3 linked regions of the Homo sapiens genome follow. The protein of the gene in region 1 interacts with the protein of each later gene in a biochemical or structural test. Each region holds a gene or a part of one and is shown in the gene's direction. Other genes may lie near its edges.

The links. The genes of interacting proteins can lie anywhere in the genome.
Region 2: of the proteins of MAP3K5 (region 1) and MBP, one has a biochemical effect on the other in vitro, tested with the Homo sapiens proteins (one study listed by BioGRID).
Region 3: the proteins of MAP3K5 (region 1) and CIB1 form a complex in vitro, tested with the Homo sapiens proteins (2 studies listed by BioGRID and IntAct).

What each region holds. Positions count from the first base shown.
Region 1 is NC_000006.12:136,789,455-136,797,146, reverse strand, and holds the start of MAP3K5 (mitogen-activated protein kinase kinase kinase 5), read left to right. Parts: upstream 1-4,669; 5' UTR 4,670-4,758; coding exon of another isoform or gene 4,759-4,989; coding exon 4,990-5,437; intron 5,438-7,692. UniProt on the Homo sapiens protein: Serine/threonine kinase which acts as an essential component of the MAP kinase signal transduction pathway. Plays an important role in the cascades of cellular responses evoked by changes in the environment.
Region 2 is NC_000018.10:77,010,761-77,017,783, reverse strand, and holds part of MBP (Golli-MBP), read left to right. Parts: intron 1-515; coding exon 516-952; coding exon of another isoform or gene 953-970; exon of another isoform or gene 971-4,991; intron 4,992-7,023. UniProt on the Homo sapiens protein: The classic group of MBP isoforms (isoform 4-isoform 14) are with PLP the most abundant protein components of the myelin membrane in the CNS. They have a role in both its formation and stabilization.
Region 3 is NC_000015.10:90,230,919-90,238,095, reverse strand, and holds the start of CIB1 (calcium and integrin-binding protein 1), read left to right. Parts: upstream 1-4,154; 5' UTR 4,155-4,210; coding exon 4,211-4,261; intron 4,262-4,392; coding exon 4,393-4,427; intron 4,428-5,648; coding exon of another isoform or gene 5,649-5,768; coding exon 5,769-5,877; intron 5,878-6,588; coding exon 6,589-6,739; intron 6,740-6,882; coding exon 6,883-7,001; intron 7,002-7,073; coding exon 7,074-7,162; coding exon of another isoform or gene 7,163-7,177. UniProt on the Homo sapiens protein: Calcium-binding protein that plays a role in the regulation of numerous cellular processes, such as cell differentiation, cell division, cell proliferation, cell migration, thrombosis, angiogenesis, cardiac hypertrophy and apoptosis.

The sequences.
Region 1 (7,692 bases):
ACTCCACCAAATGGCTCCTAGAATTGATAAACAATGTCGGTATAGTTTCAGGATACAAAATCAATGTATAAAAATCAGTAGCATTTTCATATACCAATAACGTTCAAGCTGAGAGACAAGTCAAGAACACAGTTCCATTTATAATAGCCACACACACACACACACACACGCACACAATCTAGGAATACATCCAATCAAGGAAGTGAAAGATCCCTACAAGGAGAATTACAAAACACTGTTGAAGGAAATCATAGATGACACAAACAAACAGAAAAATATTCCACGCTGATGGATTGGAAGAATCAATCTTGTTTAAATGGCCACACTGTCCAAAGCAATCTACAGATTCAATGGTATTCCTAAGAAACTACCAACATCATTTTCCACAGAATTAGAAAAACTATTCTACAATTCATATGGAACCAAAAAGGAGCCTGTAGAACAGCAGGAAAAAATAAAATAAAATAAAATAAAACCCCAAAAGAGCCTGAATAGCTAAAGCCAAAGCCAGAGGCATCATATTACCTAACTTCAAACTGTACTATAAGGCAACAGTAACCCAAACAGCACGGTACTGGTACAAAAACAGACACTCAGACTGATGGAACGGAGTAGAGAACTCAGAAATAAAGCCGTACACCTACCGCCATCTGATCTTCAACAAAGTCGATAAAAATAAGCAATGGGGAAGGACTCCCTGTTCAATAAGTGGTGCTGGCTAGCCTTATGCAGAATAAAACTGGACCCCTACCCATCACCATATACAAAAATTCACTCAAGATGGGTTAAAGATTTAAATGTAAGACCTCAAACCCTAGGAATCATAGAAGAAAACCTAGGAAATACCATTCTAGACATCGGCCTTGGGAAAGAATTTATGACTAAGTCCTGAAAAGCAATTTGCAGCAAAACGAAAAACTGACAGACGGGACCTAATCTAAACAGCTTCTGCACAACCAAAGAAACTATGAACAGAGTGTGGTGTTACGATATATATTGGTTTTCATCTGTGGTTTCTGGCTTGTAACTCCCATAACCCTCGTTATAGTCTTCTGTTATGTTGAGTGTGTTAGGCCTCAGAGGCAGGCCTCTAATTTTTTCCTGCTCTCCTTTTACCTGCTAACAACCCCCCACCTTTCTGACTGTGGGTCTTAAGACCTTCCCAGGAGAGGGTCCCATTGGATACACATGGACATAAAGATGGTAACAACAGACACTGCGGACGGGAGGGAAGGAGGGAGCAAGGGTTGAAAAACCAACTGTTGGGTGCTCTTTCTACTACCTGAGTGACAAGAACAATCGTACCCTAAACTTGAGCATCATGCAATATATCCATGTAACCTGCACATGTACCCCCGAATCTAAAATAAAACTTGAAATTACTTTAAAAAAAGCACTATTTTGCACAGCTCAGTGATTTTTAGGAATTCATGTGTGCCTTCACAGTGGGAGTGACTGTGCTCCTCCCAGAGTATTTTCTTCATGTACTTCTTCAAATACCTCCTACACTTCAGAAACTTCTCCAGATTTTCTTTATACCCTTCAACCAAAACAACATGCTGCAACAGCATGAATGTAGAAGCAGAAATGAGAATCCACTGTCATCTATTAAGCCAGACATTAAAAAGATTTGTGAAAATGCACAACGGTGTCACCATTCTTTTTGTTTTGTTTTGCAAAATACCGTTATTTTTCATTAAAAAAATTCACTTCAGCCTTTCAGCTGCCTAATTCAGATCCACAAAAATCCCACAGCCAAAGGGAACCCTGACTGTAGACTCACCCTCTGGATTCCTGTCCTTTCTTCCAGAATCTTGCCAGCTAGTTCCTCATTATCTCATAACCCTATGCTATGGAACATAAATTACCTAAACCGTGCCTTTTAGGTAGAGGGAGAATCTCTGGACCAGCTAGAAGCAGAATTTCAACATTGTATTGGGGTTTGGGTGCCTAACATAAAAAACATATTTAAAGTTAATAAATCAAAAAAGCCAGCAAAGTAAAACAAAAAATAAAAATTGTGTATGAAAATGGCTCTGAAAGGATCTGGAAGGAAAGCACAAAGTGAGAGGGTATAAAAAGTTACAGCTTTGGAAAATAGCTTGATATATAATTTCAGATTTTGTATTTCTACAGTAAAATGCTACTTGAGCATTTAGGCGTTTTAGTTTTCCACACATGAACCTCATCGATTTCCAGAGTTTGTGGTTCTTGGTGAGGATAGCGGGGAGGATTATCTTACTCCTACAAGGTTTTGGAGGTTTGACAAGTTGTTGAAAATATTAAAAGGCACATAACTATTACTAGCTCAGCAACATTTTGTTTCAGTATAATCACTGATTCACTACCTATTTTACTATTGATATTAATTCCAAAAGCTAGTGTGGGTCACATAGATTCCATTTTACATGAAGAATATAAAGTTTCCTTACTAGAAATTTACTTCTATTATTTTATACACCTTTAGAAAAATCTAATGTCACATTGATTCATTGATACAGTTGTGTAGCGGCTAGGTGTTTTTCCTCATGACTATTTCCTTCCTTCCTTTAATTATTATTTTTTTTTAAGATGGGGGTCTCACTATGTTGTCCAGGCTGATCTTGAACTCTTGGGCTCAAGCAATCCTCCCACCTTGGAGAAAATTAAAGAACTCTTTCCTTTAATTCTTTTTCTTTTTCTTTTTTTAGATGGAGTCTCGCTCTGTCGCCCAGTCTAGAGTGCAGTGTCGCCATCTCGGCTCACTGCAACCTCCACCTCCCGGGTTCAAACGATTCTCCTGTCTCAGCCTCTCGAGTAGCTGGGATTACAGGCGGCTGCCACCACGTCCAGCTAATTTTTGTATTTTTAGTAGAGACGGGGGTTTCACCATGTTGGCCAGGCTGGTCTTGAACTCCTGACCTCAAGTGATCTGCCCGCCTCGGCCTCCCAAAGTGTTGGGATTACAGGCGTGAGCCACTGCGCCCAGACTTTCCTTTAATTCTTTACTATTCAGCTATTTTATCCTTCCTTCTTACCCAGTTTGAAATGTAATTCATGGCTGGGCTGGGTGGTTCACGCCTGTAATCCCAGCACTTTGGGAGGCCGACGCGGGCATATCACCTGAGGTCAGGAGTTAGAGACCAGCCTGGCCAACATGGTGAACCCCACACCCCTCCCCCTCCCGTCTCTACTAAAAATACAAAATTAGCCTGGTGTGGTGGCGCATGCCTGTAATCCCAGCTATTCGAAAGGCTGAGGCAGGGGAATCGCTTGAACCCGGGAGGCAGAGGTCGCAGGGAGTCGAAATCGCGCCATTGCACTCCAGCCCGGGCAAGAAGAGCGAAACTCCGTCTCAAAAAAAAAAAAAAGTAATTTACATTTTCTTCTGCCTTTTTCACAGGACTCACTAGTCTCAGTTCCTGGAGATGGGAAGTACAAAACCTGTTTCTTTACTCAGTTGTAACTTGCACTGGCTTTCCTAACAATTACAGCATTCTGGGGTTCTCTGGGAACTTACACATCTGTTCTTTGCTCCCCAAATAAGCAGGTACTTTTTTTGATTGCTCTTAAACAATCTGGGTATTTCCCTCCCGGCCTCGCGTGATGCAGTTTAAAAAATAGAATAGGTCACGTTATTCCCCTGTTTCATCTTGTTGATAATTTGTGGAGTCGGGTAGAGACTCCATCTTCTATCTTAAGTATCTGGCGCTTGTGGGGGAATTAAGATCCTAAATGAGAATACTAAGTCCTTCGGCAGTTGGCACTAATCAATTACTCATTACTGATAACGGAATGAGCCACTGGAAATTTTAAAAGGAAAAGTACATGGGAGAACCTGATCAATTTAGCCAGCCACTTCTGGAGTGCCACAGTCACTAATGAAGCAACCTCCAGTGCAGGCCCTGGCTCCAGGGCGCTATGTACAACCTCCTGCCTCGCGCAACGTGGGTCTCCCGGAGCCTATCCTGCCAGCGCCGCGCACGGTCCCAGTCCACCAGGCCGCCAAGGCCCGGAGGGGGGCGCCCTAGTCGCGGGGAACACTGGAAATGCTTCAGGGGCGGACTCCGAAGACCGAGTATTGCCTCGAGGGACTTTCTGCGCCACCCCGTAATCGCTTGCGCTCCAGGTCTTCGTAGGTGGGGGCCGGGTGGGTGAAGACTGGGACCCTATGCCACGCGCAGCACTCAGAGGAGGGCTGGGGTCCCAGGGCCGCAGCGCGGTCAGTTCAGTCCGGGCTCGAGCTTCCTAGCAGCGCCCTCCTTGGGGGCTGGCCCTGACCCTCGGTGCCGCTACGAGTGGGTGGCCAGAAGCTGGTGGTGGAGAGGGAGAGCGTCTGCAAGGAACGACGAGGCTGGCGCCGGGACCACGCGGCGGAGGCGATCGAAAGAGAAACGAGGCCAGGCAAGGAGGAGGAAATCCACCCGATGAAGGCGAGCTGCCGCCTAAGAGGGAGGAGGGTCCTTTCGGCTGCCGCTGCTGCTGTTCCGGGACGCCGCCTGGGGAGCCAGCCCGCTCGTAAGGTGCGCGCCAGGTAGCTCCGCACCCAGGGGGCGCCCTTCCTGGCCCCTCCCAGAGCGGCCGGGACGGAAGGAGCTGCGCGGCGCGGCGCGGCGCGGCGCGGCGGGTGGCGAGGGCGGGCTGCACCCCGAGCGCGGCGCCCTTGAGCTGCACCGCGGCGCAGGTTTGCGAGCCGACTTGTCAGCCGGCCAAGAAAAGGAAGCTCCGTCCCTTCCCGCTCACCCGGCTTCCCCACCCCTTGTACTCTAAACTCTGCAGAGGGCGAGCGGCGCGGCCACGGAGGCGCCGAGGAGGAGCGAGCCGCCGCCGGGCAGCGGCGTGCCCTCGGGGGAGAGGGCGCCGGAGAGGAGGCGGCGGCGCGGCGGCGAGGGCGCGGCGCGCGATGGCAGCTGCTTAGCCCGGCGGGCGCGGAGCAGCCCCGAGCTGTGGCTGGCCAGGCGGTGCGGCTGGGCGGGGGACGCCGCCGCCGTTGCTGCCCGGCCCGGAGAGATGAGCACGGAGGCGGACGAGGGCATCACTTTCTCTGTGCCACCCTTCGCCCCCTCGGGCTTCTGCACCATCCCCGAGGGCGGCATCTGCAGGAGGGGAGGAGCGGCGGCGGTGGGCGAGGGCGAGGAGCACCAGCTGCCACCGCCGCCGCCGGGCAGCTTCTGGAACGTGGAGAGCGCCGCTGCCCCTGGCATCGGTTGTCCGGCGGCCACCTCCTCGAGCAGTGCCACCCGAGGCCGGGGCAGCTCTGTTGGCGGGGGCAGCCGACGGACCACGGTGGCATATGTGATCAACGAAGCGAGCCAAGGGCAACTGGTGGTGGCCGAGAGCGAGGCCCTGCAGAGCTTGCGGGAGGCGTGCGAGACAGTGGGCGCCACCCTGGAAACCCTGCATTTTGGGAAACTCGACTTTGGAGAAACCACCGTGCTGGACCGCTTTTACAATGCAGGTGCGTGTGTGACCCCTTTCCCATCCCGCGCGGTCGGGACCCGCGTTTAATCTGGCGGTCTTCGGGGCATTTCATTTTTCTGGGCGGGAAGCATTTACTTCTTGCCCCACTTTGGGGGCAGCGAGCGCCGCTGCGTGACTGCTCCTGTCGCTCGCCGCTCCGGAGAGAGCGTGTGTGCTTGTGCAAGAGTCTGTGTGTACTTGTGCGATAGACCTATGGATCCACCCACCGCCCAGCGCTGGAGCCCTGGGTCCATGCGATCGACTTGAACTGTTCTCCAGCAGTGTGAGATATTTGCCCCAGTCAGTCTTTCTCCTTTCAGTGTCTCGGTTTCGCTTCTGTGAGGTTTGGTCCCTGTTTTCTTTCTGCATATACCTGTGACCGTTTTAGATGAGGTTCTCCTTTTCTCTGTGTAGTTTTGAGAGTACGGGAACGATGACATACCATGCACGCAGAGTGTAACTATATTAATTTGCATGCCATGTGATGATCTTCCCAACTCACCTTACCTTCGATAAGTTTTAGTAGCTTGAATTTCCTCTCACCAACCCAGACTTTGAAGTAATTACAGTGCTTCCAAAGGCAATAACATTACAACTTACACTGAACTTGTGTGTTATCTTTGTAAGGATTTTGGTGAAAGAACCAGGGCCTGTTTTTTATTACCCCATAAACCATGGTGGGCTAGAAAGTTTGTAATTTAACATTGTCTAAAACACCTGTATGCTATCCTAATAATAAGATTAGTTTCGCCATTAAAGTGATTGCTAGCATAATCCATGAAAGAAATGTATCTTTCAACCTATCTCAAATTTCAGAAAATGTTAAGGCAGTTCTAGTAACTGAAGCACTTAGCTGTTAGCAAATGTTAGGAATAATACCATATTATGGAAATTAACCTTTAGTCCCCTGTACGTCCAGTGTTGAGAATATATACATATTTATGTTTACATTTGTGGGTAAAAACTTGGTTTAGTAGTTTCAAAACAATACACTTCTTGCATTTGTGATCACATAAAAGGCTTTATTTTCCAATCTTGTTTTCAATTCTGATTCTCTTTAGTGTCTTCCAAACACCTGAAGTGGGCTTATGTCAGTTTTGGAATTCAGCCAAAGCTGAATATTTTGAGAACAACAAGACCTTCATGTTAAGGAAGCCAGACTAAATAAACTAGGACTTTCTCGTTCTGGTATTTTTAAAATAGTTTTGGTCTTCATAACTGAGCATGGCTATAATATAGCTTGATTCTTTGGGTAGCTTGCTATAAAAGTTACATCAACATAACTTTTCTAAAAATTGTAGCACTCTTATTTTTGGATTATAATTTGGAAGAAACTTCAAAGAACTAAAAGATATGAGAGGAAAATACCCAACTGAACACTTGAGCCTATTTTTATTGCACTGATTGGGCGTTTTTTTCCTAGGGCTCTAGAAAAAAAATGTTAAACTCTAAGCTAATTTGAAAGAAACTTTCCTAACAAGGCTTGGTTTCTGTTATTCTCCAAATACTGTCTCTGGGAAAGGGAGAGAGAATGATTAGAAGGGAGCTGAAGTTTGAGTGTATTTCATTGAATCCTCCAAACAAGCCTGTGAAGGAAGTACTTACCTTCTTAGGTGAGAAAACCCAGGGATCCCTAACTGGCCCTAGGATTCATAGGGAGTAAGTGGCCAATGCAGGATTCCACTTCAGGTGGCTGACCCTAAAAGGTTGTGCTTGGGCCAGGCGTGGTGGCTCACGCCTGTAATCCCAGCACTTTCGGAGGCCAAGGCGGGTGGATCACCTGAGGTCAGGAGTTCCAGGCCAGCCTCCTGGCCAACATGGTGAAACCCTGTCTCTACTAAAATGACAAAAATTAGCCAGGCATGGTGGTGCACACCTGTAGTCCTAGCTACTCAGGAGGCTGAGGCAGGATAATCACTTGAACCTGGGAGGCAGAGGTTGCAGTGAGCTGAGATTGTACCACTGCACACTCCAGACTGGGTGACAGAATGAGACTCTGTCTTAAAAAAAAAAAAAAAAAAAAAAAAAAAAAGAGGTTGTGCTTGGCCCTTGCTTCCTCCATTTAGGTGGGCTGAGTTACTCTCAGAATCAAGGGAAGCTCCCTATCTTGGAATCATGTGAGTGAGCTGGCAAAGATCTTACCAGGCATTTAGGTGTGTATGGAATAGTGGGGAGGGCATGCTCTCGGAAGCCTCTTTTTCCTGCGCCCACTCTGTCCCTTCGTACTGCTTCTTTCAACCTAGACAGGTCTCA
Region 2 (7,023 bases), on another chromosome or scaffold:
TGAAACAATTCTAAATGCCCCACTTCTTTCATGCATGAATTGCAAAAAGATGTGGCAAGTTTTGTTTCTACCAAGAAAACTAAAAACACCTTTTGTCAAATAAATGCTCCTTGCATATTTAACTTATGCACCAGTGGCCTTTTAAACAGTCAATGTCCCATCAAGGTGCCTGCACATCTGGGCTCTCCGGGAGCAGCCATGGCAGCACCCGGGAAGAAACGCTGATGTGGCTGCTCTGCATGCTCAGATGACTTCATCGGGAAGCCTGGGTGCATTTTACGCTGGGTGCCAAATCTCGAGTAACTGAGGAATTCCCAGAGCCTTCTGAAACACAGAGCTGCAATAAGGCTGCTCCATCCAGGTTAGCTCCATCCTAGGCCAAGGGCTTTATGAGGACTGCACATATTCTGTGGGTTTTATAGGAGACAGCTAGGTCAAGACCCCTCAGAGAAAGCTGCTTTGTCCGGTGCTCAGCTTTGCACAGGCCCGTATTCATATCTCATTGTTGTTTGCAGGAGAGGCAGATGCGAACCAGAACAATGGGACCTCCTCTCAGGACACAGCGGTGACTGACTCCAAGCGCACAGCGGACCCGAAGAATGCCTGGCAGGATGCCCACCCAGCTGACCCAGGGAGCCGCCCCCACTTGATCCGCCTCTTTTCCCGAGATGCCCCGGGGAGGGAGGACAACACCTTCAAAGACAGGCCCTCTGAGTCCGACGAGCTCCAGACCATCCAAGAAGACAGTGCAGCCACCTCCGAGAGCCTGGATGTGATGGCGTCACAGAAGAGACCCTCCCAGAGGCACGGATCCAAGTACCTGGCCACAGCAAGTACCATGGACCATGCCAGGCATGGCTTCCTCCCAAGGCACAGAGACACGGGCATCCTTGACTCCATCGGGCGCTTCTTTGGCGGTGACAGGGGTGCGCCCAAGCGGGGCTCTGGCAAGGTGAGCTCTGAGGAGTAGAGGAGTTTTAGTTTAAATGGAAAAAGCAAAGGAGAAATCAGTAGGTGAACTCAGCCATTAGAGGAAGAACTGGCACGTAGCCTCTTGCTGTCTAAGGTCTCGTTCCGTGCTGGAGAATGCATATGAGCCCAAGAGTGTGGGCCTGAGTGGCTGCTTAGGACGTTTTCGTTTAACTCACCCCCTCTTTTCCTCACAAGGGATGGTGGCCGGGGTGTGGCTCAGGAATGTAAGGACATGCTGAATTCTGGATCTCTAAGGGTGCCTGGACATGGGCGTTGCAGAAAGAGAGCCACATTCTCAGGGTCTCTGGTGGTGTGTGCTTGCGGACTTGATGACTGATGTTGCCTCTGCAGCCCACACGCTGGGGTTCAACACTGGGTTATGCTCGTTTTTTCCTGGAGTCAGTGCTGCTAGCTTCATGTTGCTCTGCGACAATCATAGGATTGAGGTCGAGGAAGACTTTTGAACAAACTCCTCAATTTAAATCCGCCTTGAGCAAACGTTCTCTGTGGTCTGAGAAGTGGAAGGGGGGAGGGATAAATGAGTGTCTATGAATCAAAGCTTTATTATCTTGTGATTCCATTAATTTGCATACAGAGTCTTAGAAGTTTCTTTATTCAAAAGCAAATGTGGATAAAAATGTATTACAAAAAAAAAAAACTCTGCTATGGGGTCCAGAGTCTAGGAGTGGTTTCTGCAGTTGATTGTCAGTGGAGAACCTGTGGCTGCTGGTTCATCAAAGCGCTGGTCCCTGAGTGCCATTCAGATTGCAGATGCAGTATTTTACGTGATGTTTAGAGTGTTTGGTGGTTGTGTAATTTTGGAGAGAAAGAAGTTTTTCCCAAAAAAGTCCCTAGTTTATTGGGTGTTCTCACACAACCTGTAAGATGAAGCTGTTTTTCTGCCTGTGTGCAGGGCTGATTCTGGAATTCCAGAAGGCCTTGTGGGAGCGTAAAAGGCTTTTGAATAAAGTGTGGAACAGAGCGCCTCATTCTGATAACATGCAATCATAAAAACCATAGGGCAACTTGGAGTTAAGGAGTTTCTAGAATTTGCTTTAGTCTCCAACTGCAATTCTTTATTGATCATGAAATTGTTGAAGAGAAACACAAATGTCAGTTTTACCTTTCCTGTGGGCGTGAAAGCACATCGAAGTTTCAGGCAACTGTTAACATCTCTACCATCTGTCTGAGTTGAGATTTCAGGTTGTGACACTTGCCGTGACTTATTTGTAAATGACATTTTGTGTGTCTTAGATACTAATGGAATTCATATTCTGGCTAGTTCTTTCAGTGCATTTGTAGACATGTTCTTTTCCTTTGTAGCAGTCCTCCCTCACCCTGAAATGTTGGTGTTCTAACCGATTTCTAATGCTAATTTCAACTGGAAGCACTTTTTCAAGCCCAGCTATCAAACCACACCAGACATGTATGGATTCGGGTTGCCCAATAAAGCGTTGCTATTATGTAAGCATCCCTCACGCATACAGCATCACCAGTTTTGAAAGCTTGAACTATTCTGCTTACTTCAAGGTACAGAAAAAAAAAATGTACTTAAACTGTGCAGAAAAGATGAAATCACTGGATAATATGTATTATAAAATAAGCTTCATGTGAGTGACACTGGTTTAAGTTGAAATAAAATGGTGAAAGCATTGATATCAATCATTGTGACTTTATCTCAAAACAATATTGACACACATAGATGTTTTTCTTCCTTTATGGTAAGATTACAGCCTTTATTGTCTTAAATCTCTTATACTCTTCAATATTTTCAAAGAAAACATTCTAGTCTCAGAAATAGTCCATCTCTTTGCAAAACAGGGCTGGCCAATTATCAAGGACCCATAAAAATCAAAACACTTTCAAAAATTTTAAAAATAAAAATAATTTTCACATGATTGCTTTAGGAATTTTGAAGTATCCATTCTTTTCACTATGGAGTGTTGAATATAGAAGATTTTTTAATGAACAGGCTTGCCCTTTGATGCCAAAGGCAAAAAATAATAATAATAACATTTGCACGTGTGATCACAGAGCAGCTGTGAGGCATCCCGGGGGAGCGCACGCAGTGGGGATGTGATTGCTCCACTCAACTATTTTATCACAAAGTGTTGTAAACATGGGAGATGAAAGCTTAACTCTCTCTACACCCAGCTACAGACCCGCAATGGCCCTAAAAATCTGGGGTATTCATTGGGTGGGCTGCCATGGAGGAATTTTTGGTTTTGTTTTTATTTTTATTTGTTGTTCTGTTTACAAATCAGGAGAGCCCCTGTTTTTATATGCTAGGAAGGTCCTTGGGATAGGCCGAAGAGGTGTGCAAACGAGCAGTGGAAGGCCCGGGCCCTGTCTCTCAGGACCACGGCGGCCTGCCCCACACACAGTTCTGCTTCTCCCTATCTAGAACGAGGTTTTCCTGGCAGATTCCTGCCAGACTCTGAGTGGAGCCCCCCCATGACCCTATAAAAGGGGCTGTTTGTCCTCCTCCCACCCTCCTGTGCTCTTCCTCCCTCCCCTTGAGGGCACATGGCCGCTGGTACCACATGTTGGAGCGGCCGCCCCCGAGCCCGGGAATGCCCTAACAACACCCATGCTTGTGTTGCTGGGAGCTGACATTCAAGAAAAGTGCATTAAAAATTCCTTGAGAAGGCATATTCTTTTGAGAGCCGTAAATGAAAAGTGCATTCACGGAGAACATGCTCCTTTGTTGTGAGAGGAAAGAAAGGACTGTTGTTGCCTTTAAGGAACAGGTTTCCCAGTTCCCCGGAATGTCAGGGTCACATGAGGAATGGGTGAGCACTTAGGGCCAAGATTGTCGTGTGCTTGGCCCGGCAGCTTCTCTCTAAGTGACCTCTCCAGCATCACTCTGTGCCAGTGCTCATATCTGAGGCCACTTGAGTGTCACGAGGCAGAGCCTGGAAACATTAGCTTTGGAAACCGTTCCTTCCTTTTTATGTGGAGGAAGTAAGGTTTCACAAGACACCTAAGCTGGACATGGTGATGTGCCACTTGGATAGTTCCCAAAGCAGAAAGCAGCCAGGACATCCCAGTACCCCACTTCTCCGTGCCGTGTACTTTTAGGGAGGTTTTCGAAAGCTAGCTTCTTACCGATGATTTTGTCTATTTTTCTGTTTTATGTGAAAACCTTCATTTATAACCTGCTCTTCTCAGTGTTCTTCTATTCAGCATTCAGTATGACTTCTATGCCTCTAATTGCGACTGTATGGAGAAGAACTGTTTGTCATTCAGTGCCGTGGGATATAATCAGTCCTGTAAATTCATCAGAATGTTCTGTTGCCTGATTTTTTTTCCATTGCATTTTAATTTCATTAAACATATTTTAGTTCTACAGTAACCTAATTCCTCATTGTTACCATGAGATCCTAATTCTGTAGCTGTGTTCTGTAATCCCATGGGGCGTGTACCATTTGGAGACACATGAAGGATACAGTAGACAGCACGGAAGGCAGCAGCAACACACAGGGGTGTCCTCCCTCCCCAGAGCCCAGTGTGCACACAGAACCAAATTCAATCTCATTCATCGTGAGCTTGCATGGTAACTGATCCAGCCACTCAGTACCTCCATTGGATAAGAGATTTGGCCACAGATTCTTCTAGAGAAAATCCAAATGTGGAGGGTGCATTTGTTTCTGCACCCAAACAAATACCTTTTGAGATTTCTTATAGGCATTCCTCTCAAAGTCTCATTACTCTGATCAGTTATTGATCGGAGGCTACCCTGGCTCAGTCACCAGCTGCTCACTGTGTCCTTCTGTGGTCTCAGGAGCTGCAGTTGTTGCTGTTGTATGAATAGACGATAGTTAATTAGACTGGATGTGTCTGTACTGGCAGTGATTTTGCAACTTCCTCTGTATAAGCGATACATTTGTAAATCATGGGAATGTATTTGATGGTAATTGCCTGTGGTGGTTGTATCATGATTTAATTTTATTATGAGCTTTTGGCTTTATATATTTTTCTGCCTTTTTATGCATTCATTAAACAGTTTAACAGACCAAGGACAGTGTACTAATTGCATGCGAACTTCTTTAATTTGTCGTTTTTGGTTTGGTTGCCCCCACCACGTCAGTGTGCTGTGTTGCCGGCATTTTTGTGGCCTGGTGACACAGCTGGCAGGTAAGTGTGAGCACCCGAGCTCCTGCCCTTCTGTGTGGGAAGGTCACAGTTGCTCACTCATCTGCTTTTACTACACAGAGACATTTTACTGTCTTCTCTCACCTGACCTGTGCTTCTGTGTGGGAAGGTCACAGTTGCTCACTCATCTGCTTTTACTACACAGAGACATTTTACTGTCTTCTCTCCCCTGACAGTTCGGTGTTCTGGTCTTTCTATGGTGACTATTCTGATTCTGCCTGAAGTTTCTTGTGTTTCTCTCAAAGCATCATCCCGCAAATGTTAGGGAGGGTGGACGCTGAGCAGATCCCACTGGCAGGTGCTGTCATGGACACAGCCCGCCCCACCAGCATCTCCTGAATGAACGTGCACATGGGTGCCAGTGCCCACAGGGCCCCCCGGGAGCTCACACACAACGGGGGTCATGGGAACCTCGAGACACTGAAATGAGGGGATGGTGCTGGCTCTCTGAAAGATGATAATGAGTGTATGAGATGAAGCTGAAACTTGGGGTCTTTGAGAAATTAGAAACAAGAGTAAAGATAAGTGATTGGCTTGGATGCGGTCCTGCCTTTCATGTCCCATCAGACCCTCGTCTTAACTCATCTCCTCCCTTTAAACTCATTTGCATTTTAAAGCATTCATTTCTCTCATCGTTGATTTTCCTTTGATAAAAAGTCTGGACATTTGATAACAGGCAATTCTGATCGGTGAATTAGGAGCTTGGCTTGACATCTGAGGGAATAGATCATCCTTAGAAAAAAACACACAATAGCACTCGTGAAAATCACTTAGATATTGATACAAATTTAAGAAGTGTGGACATTTCCTATCAAACCCTGATTCAATGTTTTTAAAAGTTTTTTCCTTTATGGCTATCAGCACACTCTTAATGCTCTGAAATCATCCTACTTCATAAAAACGTAGTAAAAAAGAAGAAACAGCTAAAGAACACTGAACTCTCTTGAGGGAGCCCCATACAAGCGGGCTTAGCACACACAATTTCTCCTAAGAGGCTATTCTTGCCTTTCGTCTTCTCTGGCCCTTGCATTTGTCCTCCCTCTTCCTGGCTCTGGGAGTGGCAGGCAGCCGGGGTTACAGGTTGCATTTCCTGAAAACCATCAGTGGGATGTCTTATGGCTACCCCAGCCACCTGCCTTCCCCATGAGTAGACAGGGAGTCAGTAGAGGGGCTTCACGCCAGCCCACCAGAGCCACGAGAACATGCCTCACAGTGATGATCTTCTTTGTGAAGAAGAGCCATTGTAGGAGATGGAGGGAAAATTAATGGAAAGTTCTTCGCTTGTTGGCCCTGTACATAGCGTACACTTGCTCACGCTCATGGACACCAGCTGATGGGAGTCACTGCTTATGAGGACAGCCAAGTCTCATCAGCACAGCAACTCCCGCAGGCTTATCCACGGAGACCTCCTCTAAAGTGAATACTCAATTTACTTACCTTTAATATCATGAATTAAAGTCACCAGAAATTCCTGCTAACCTAGAAATAGCCTCTCTCATGCAGGGAGAATCCATCAGGAGACGTACAGCTAAGCACACACTCACCACAGATTTGCCTCTGAAAACCCCGGTGTGTTCACTTTCCATAATACTTCTAGAATGCTCCCACATTCTTCAGTGTCGGAACTACTCTATTCTCATGCATACTCAGCTGCTAACCTGGTTAAAAGAATCCATTTCATCTGCAGCCAATACATCTCCTGAAACCTATTACGCTGATTTCATCTCTTGACCACTATAAGTCTCCTCTTTCTCTTCTCTCTCTGTCTTCATTTTGCTGTAGCTGATAGTCAAGAAATAGACATTTCTTGCAGGGCACTTACCTTGGTCCTATAATAATAGTCTTTCAACTGCAGCCCTCAAAGTTCATTGATATAGCAGATACTCTCGTGTAACT
Region 3 (7,177 bases), on another chromosome or scaffold:
ACTCCTGACCTCAGGTGATCCACCTGCGTTGGCCTCCCAAAGTGCTGGGATTACAGGCGTGAGCCACCGCACCTGGCCAAAAATGTTTAAAAGTGAAGCTAATCCTTTGAGCTGGAGCTGCAAGGTAAAAGACAACAACAACAAAAAAGTGAAGCTAAGCATAATTTTGATGATCAAATGTAGTATCTTATTCTCACCTTACTGCAATGTCTGCCTCCCAGACTCAAGCAATCCATCCACCTCAGCCTCCCAAGTAGCTGGGACCACAGGCACTTGCACCAGGCCTGACTAATGTAGTATCTTATTCTAATAAAAGAGAATCTTATCTGACAGGCGAAAAAATTTAAAATGAGATAATAAAAATAATACAAAACCAAAAAAAGGAGAAAAAAAAGAGATAATCTTAGACATTTTTTCAAATAAGATATAAAGATGGCCAACAAGCACATTTGGGATGTTTAACGTCATTAATCAATAAGAAAAGGCAAATCAAAATCACAATGAGGGGCTGGGTGCGGTGGCTCACACCTGTAATCCCTGGACCAGCACATTGGGAGGCTGACGCAGGTGAATCACGAGGTCAAGATACCGAGACCATCCTGGCCAACATGGTGAAACCCTGTGTCTACTAAAAATACAAAAATTAGCTGGGCGTGGTGGTGGGCACACACCTGTAGTCCCAGCTACTTGGGAGGCTGAGGCAGGAGAATCACTTGAACCTGGGAGGTGGAGGTTGTGGTGAACTGAGGTGGTGCCACTGCATTCCAGCCTGGTGACAGAGCAAGACTCCATCTCAAAAAAAAAAAAAAAAAGGGAAAAAAAGAAAATTACAATAAAGTCCGGGCACGGTGGCTCACGCCTGTAATCCCAGCACTCTGGGGGGCCAAGGTGGGTGGATCACGAGGTCAGGAGTTCGAGACCAGCCTGGCCAATATGGTGAAACCCTGTCTCTACTAAAAATACAAAAAAATTAGCCAGGTGTGGTAGTGGGCGTCTGTAATCTCAGCTACTCGGGAGGCTAAGGCAGGAGAATCGCTTGAATCTGGGAGGCAGAGGTTGCAGTGAGCTAAGATCGCACCACTGCACTCCAGCCTGGTGACAGAGTGAGACTCTGTCTCAAAAAAATAAATAAAATAAAAAATAAAAGTATATCAGCAGCTCGGTTTTATCACTGTACCAAGAGTTGATCAGGTACAGGAGGGACAATATGCTAACCAGATTCACCGAGGACTACCAAATGATTCAGACTGCCCATTTAATAATCTACCATGAGAGGCCGGGCGTGGTGGCTCAGCACTTTGGGAGGCTGAGGGAGGCGGATCAAGAGATCAGGAGATCGAGACCATCCTGGCCGACATGGTGAAACCCCGTCTCTACTAAAAAAAAATACAAAAATTAGCTGGGCGTGGTGGTGCACTCCTGTAATCCCAGCTACTCAGGAGGCTGAGGCATGAGAATCAGGTGAACCTGGGAGGCAGAGGTTGCAGTAAGCCAAGATCATACCACTGTACTCCAGCCTGGTGACAGAGTGAGACTCCATCTCACAAATAAAAATAATTTACAATGAGAAATATGCCAAATGGCACAAAAGGTTCTTGCTGGCTGGTCAGTGTACAAAATGAATCAGGAAGCAAAATGAAAACCAAAGGTTGTTCCATGAAGGGTTCAGAGCCAAGTGAAGTGACTGAGAGATCTAGATCACAGCTGGTCACCAGGCACAAAGCTGACTCTCATGTCTTCACTATAAAGAGATACTTATGGCTGGGTGCAGTGGCGCACGCCTGTAATCCTAGCACTTTGGGAGGCCAAGACAGGCGATCACCTGAGGTTGGGAGTTCGAGACAAGCCTGACCAACATGGAGAAACCCCGTCTCTACTAAAAATACAAAACTAGCTGGGTGTGGTGGCACATGCCTGTAATCCGAGCTATTCAGGAGGCTGAGGCAGGAGAACTGCTTGAACTCAGGAGGCGGAGGTTGCGGTGAGCTGAGATCATGCCATTGCACTCCAGCCTGGGCAACAGGAGTGAAACTCTGTCTCAAAAAAAAAGAAGACAGATACTTATTACCATGCAGTCCAGGTATTCGCCTTGGCTTGTAAGAGGCAAACAAGGTCTATTTAGTACAGGAGACATAATGACAGCTTCTTGCTTTTTGCCTAAGCTTTTACTAACAGAAGACTAACTCTTTCTCGGACAGAAAGAGCCTGCTATTAAGAGAAAAATGATCGGCCGGGCACGGTGGGTCACGCCTGTAATCCCAGCACTTTGAGAGGCCGAGGTGGGCGAATCACGAGGTCAGGAGATCCAGACCATCCTGGCTAACAGGGTGAAACCCCGTCTCTACCAAAAATACAAAAAAATTAGCCGGGTGTGGTGGCGGGTGCCTGTAGTCCCAGCTGCTGGGGAGGCTAAGGTAGAAGAATGGCGTGAACCCAGGAGGCGGAGCTTGCAGTGAGCCAAGATCATGCCACTGCACTCCAGCCTAGGCGACACAGCGAGACTCTGTCTCAAAAAAAAAGAGAAAAATGATCAGGTTGGGATGGGCCTATACCCTAGTTATTTTTTTTTATTTTTATTTTTTGAGACAGAGTCTCACTCTGTTGCCCAGGCTGGACTGCAGTGGCACAATCTCCGCTCACTGCAACCTCCAGCTCCCAGGTTTAACCATGTCTGGCTAATTTTTGTATTTTTAGTAGAGATGGGGTTTTGCCATGTTGGCCATGCTGGTCTTGAACTCCTGGCCTCAAATGATCCGCCTGCTTCAGCCTCCCAAAGTGCTGAGATTACAGGCATGAGCCACCGCGCCTGGCCTTGAATATTTCTACAATGATGGAATGTACCTGTTAATACAGTGTGTCTTATCAAACACATGCTGCCAAGGAGAGCACTGGGTATTCTTCCAGTGTAAAGTAGATTCCTAGGCAGTCTAGGGAGTCAGGAAAGGCTTCCCTGAGGATGAGATGGAAGAGGGACTGAGGGCCCAAAGTGGCTGAAAGACAGAGAGCCAATAGGAGGAAGTCCAGTTACAGAGGGCCAGGATTTGGGTTTTTAACCATTTAATGGTTATAAACTGAGACTAACATACTCAGATTTAGACTTTACAAAGATCAGCAAGTATAATGGATTGGAAGGATCAAGAATTAATCCCAGCCTGACCAACACAACCTCCACTTCCTCCTCCCAGCAGTTTGGAATCCTTACCTTTTGCAATAGTATACGTTCATTCATTTATTATGCATTCGATAATATTTACTGAGAGCCTACTATGTGCCAAACATTATCCTAGAGGTTAAGAGGGGACAAGAGCAAAGGGTCAGCAGTCTAGGGGTGAGATGGAGTCAAAAGGACGGCAGGTCAGCTGGAATGATGAGAACAGCAGTGGAGAGCCTTTAAAAGTGCCTTGGACTGGACCGATTACCTTCTAAATGCCGGCGCCCGGAAAAATCACTAACACCCTTTGGACTTACGTATTTCCATCTTTGTAAAATGGGAACCTACCTCGCAAGGGATGTTGCAACAATCGAAGAAAACTATGCACAATGCTTGACATCCAGTGGGTCCTCAGTAAATAGCCTAAGAAGGAAGCAAGGTTATGGTTACTTCTGGAAGAGGTGGCTTGGGGGCTGCGACAGGTGCAGCGATTGCCTGATGATAACATCTAGAAAAGCCCTTGCTGGGCAGAGGGGCAGCCGACGACCCCCGCCACTCAGCGAGTCTCCAGGTTTCCCGGAAACGCTAGCTCCAGTGACTTCTCAGATGCCCCTATGGGACCCCACCCAGGGCTGCCGCCGCCACCACCTACTGCAGCCGAAGCGGATGCACCTCGCGACTTTCCCCGCAGCCGCTGCCGGGGCCACAGCGAGGTCATGACGCCCGTGACGCATACGCAGCCAGCACGCACGCGCGCGGCGTGGCCCGCCCCCCCCTCCCACCCCGGAGGCGGGGCCGTGAGTCCCGGGCTCCGCCCCGGAGCGTCGGGCCCCTCCCCGGGCCCCGCCTCCAGCTCGCCTAGGACCGCTTGGAGCCGGCAGCTCGCCTGCCAAACCCGGCTGGGAACGCCTGGCAGCTTTTAGGAGGGGGCGGGCCCGGGGGTGGTGGCCCCAGGAGCGGTTGCCGCGGGGACCGGGCAGTGACGCGGCCCAAGGGCGGAAGTGAGAAAGTTGTCTGCGTCTCGAGGCGAGTTGGCGGAGCTGTGCGCGCGGCGGGGCGATGGGGGGCTCGGGCAGTCGCCTGTCCAAGGAGCTGCTGGCCGAGTACCAGGTGCGCGGGACGCCTGGCCCTGGGGAGCTCGCGTGCGGGCCTCTTCTCGGGAGCAGGGTCCGGGAGCTGGCTGCGGGGCGGCCGCGGCCTCCCAGCGGTCCGCTAATCCCCGCTCTGGCTTTGCCTTCCAGGACTTGACGTTCCTGACGAAGCAGGAGATCCTCCTGTAAGTGCTGCCTTGAACCCTGCCTCCGACCCCGGGATCCTCTAGAGACAGCTTCGGGGGCGCTGTCCCGAGGGAGGGGCGGGGGCTGGCCTGAGGTCTGCAGAGGAGCGGGAGCTGGAGGCCGGGAGACCTAGCCCGGGCTGCGCCCTCCTCCCGGCACGCCCTCCCCGCCCTCGCCTGAGGCCCCAGCGTGGCACCGCGGAGCCACCTTACAGCCTCCAGGAAAAGTTAGGCGCTCTTTGACCCTGGGCTCCACTAGCTTCAGCACTGCCGAACTTCCTGCCCCAGTCCGGCAGGGGCCGACCTTGCCCAGTGGCTAAACCACAGAAGCCTTGGGGAGCCCGGCTCCTTCTCCCAACTTTACCTGAATAATACAGTAACCGTTATCGCTTTCTGAGCACTCACCATGTGCCAGGGACTGTGCTAAATGGTTGCCTGCGTTACCTAATTTAATCTTTAGGAGAGAGGTACTGGACAATGAAACAGGTTCAGAAAGGTTTGGTAACTGCTTAAGACAACACTCTGAGTAAGTAGATTTGAACTTGGGCTGGAAGCCCTTTTGCCGGATTTATGCAGGCCAGGTTCCTGTGGCAAAGATAAGCTCATGGGAAGGAGGTGGAGGCCGAGGAGGACAGTTCAGTGTGGTTGCTAAAAAGGAGGCTTTGAGGGTAAGAGATCCCTGGAGTGAAGGTGAGAATGAGATTTTTGGTTTTGCTCTTTTCTCCGTTTTTTTTTTTTTGAGACAGCGTCTCGCTCTGTCGCCCAGGCTGGAGTGCTGGGGCACGATCTTGGCTCACTGCAGGCTCTGCCTCCGGGTTCAAGTGATTCTCCTGCCTCCGGGTTCAAGTGATTCTCCTGCCTCAGCCTCCTGAGTAGCTGGGATTATAGGCACCCGCCACCATGCCCGGCTAATTTTTGTATTTTTAGTAGAGAAGGGGTTCACCATGTTGCTCAGACTGGTCTCAGACGCCTGACCTCCAAAGCTCCGCCCGCCTTGGCCTCCCAAAGTGCTGGGATTACAGGTGTGAGCCACCGTGCCTGGCCAATTCTTTAGGGCCAACTTCTGGCTCCTTTCCCAACTTCTTCATCCCTTGGGGATCTCTAGAATCAGTGCCAAGCACATAGTAAATGCTCAGTAAATACTCATTGCAAGAATAGACTCCTAGGCTGTACTGCCTTGTGACATGTCCTTTTGCTTACCGTTGCCTGATGACTCGGAAGTTCTGTGTACGTGGTTTTAGCTCCTCACCTGGTTGACAATGAGCAGCAGGCAAGGAGTGGGAATGAACACACAGGGAGACCGATCGCTGAGAACACCGACAGTTCCCCTCTCTCTACCAGAGCCCACAGGCGGTTTTGTGAGCTGCTTCCCCAGGAGCAGCGGAGCGTGGAGTCGTCACTTCGGGCACAAGTGCCCTTCGAGCAGATTCTCAGCCTTCCAGAGCTCAAGGTGCAAGCGCTCCCCTCCTTTGACACCTCTCCCACCACTCCCTCCCTGCTAGACCCCCTAACTCCATCTGCCACTAGCTTTGGGATCATGGGGTCACTGGTCCCCACTCTGGTCATTTTTCTGCTTAGTTCTGATTTTCTAGGGGCAAGGACTTTACCAAAATCACCTGGCAGAATTATCTAGAATGGTGCTTTTCAAATGGGGATTCTAGAACATAATCTTGGAAGTTCAAAGAAGTTTTGTCCCTTAAGAGGAGTTGAGGTACCTCATTAGAGTTTGAGGAACCGTGTTCTAGAGGCTGATTGCCACTCCGTAAGGCTGCTGCAAAATTTCTGTGCAAAGGGCCTGGCCCGGTGCCTGTAACACAATAGCTGTTCAAGTAAATATTTGTGTTTTAAAATAACCAGCCCATCTCGTTCCCTTTGTTTAGGATGACTTCTTCTTCCCTCTCTGCCCACACTTACGTTGTATGTGACCTGCCTTTGGGTTAAACACTTGACTCCCAGGAAGCCATCTCAGTCCCTTCCCCAGCTGGGTCAGTTTGCTTTCCTGTGCCCCCACTGCCCTCCATGTTGGCCCCAAAGCACTGACTGTTCACCCCCACGAGGCTGAGCTCGCTGGTGCTGGTCCTGTGACCTGCTCTCTCAAGTTTCTGGTAGGCTTTAATGAGCGTGTGACCTGGGCCACGTCCTGTGGCGTTTGTTCTCCTAGGCCAACCCCTTCAAGGAGCGAATCTGCAGGGTCTTCTCCACATCCCCAGCCAAAGACAGCCTTAGCTTTGAGGACTTCCTGGATCTCCTCAGTGTGTTCAGTGACACAGCCACGCCAGACATCAAGTCCCATTATGCCTTCCGCATCTTTGGTGAGAACCAGGAGCAGCCCGGCAGGACACCACCCCTTCCCACGTGGGCTTTGTGGTGGCCCTGCTTGGGAAATGGGCGCCGTTTGGGGAACCTCAGAGCCCCTCCCAACCGTGTCTTTTGGCTTCCTGTGTCTGCTCTCTAGACTTTGATGATGACGGAACCTTGAACAGAGAAGACCTGAGCCGGCTGGTGAACTGCCTCACGGGAGAGGGCGAGGACACACGGCTTAGTGCGTCTGAGATGAAGCAGCTCATCGACAACGTGAGCAGCTGAGCAGGCCTGGGAGCGGGAGGGAGCAGTTGGGGCTCTGGCCTGAAACTCTCCCTTTCCCAGATCCTGGAGGAGTCTGACATTGACAGGGATGGAACCATCAACCTCTCTGAGTTCCAGCACGTCATCTCCCGTTCTCCAGACTTTGCCAGGTATGACAGTGGTCC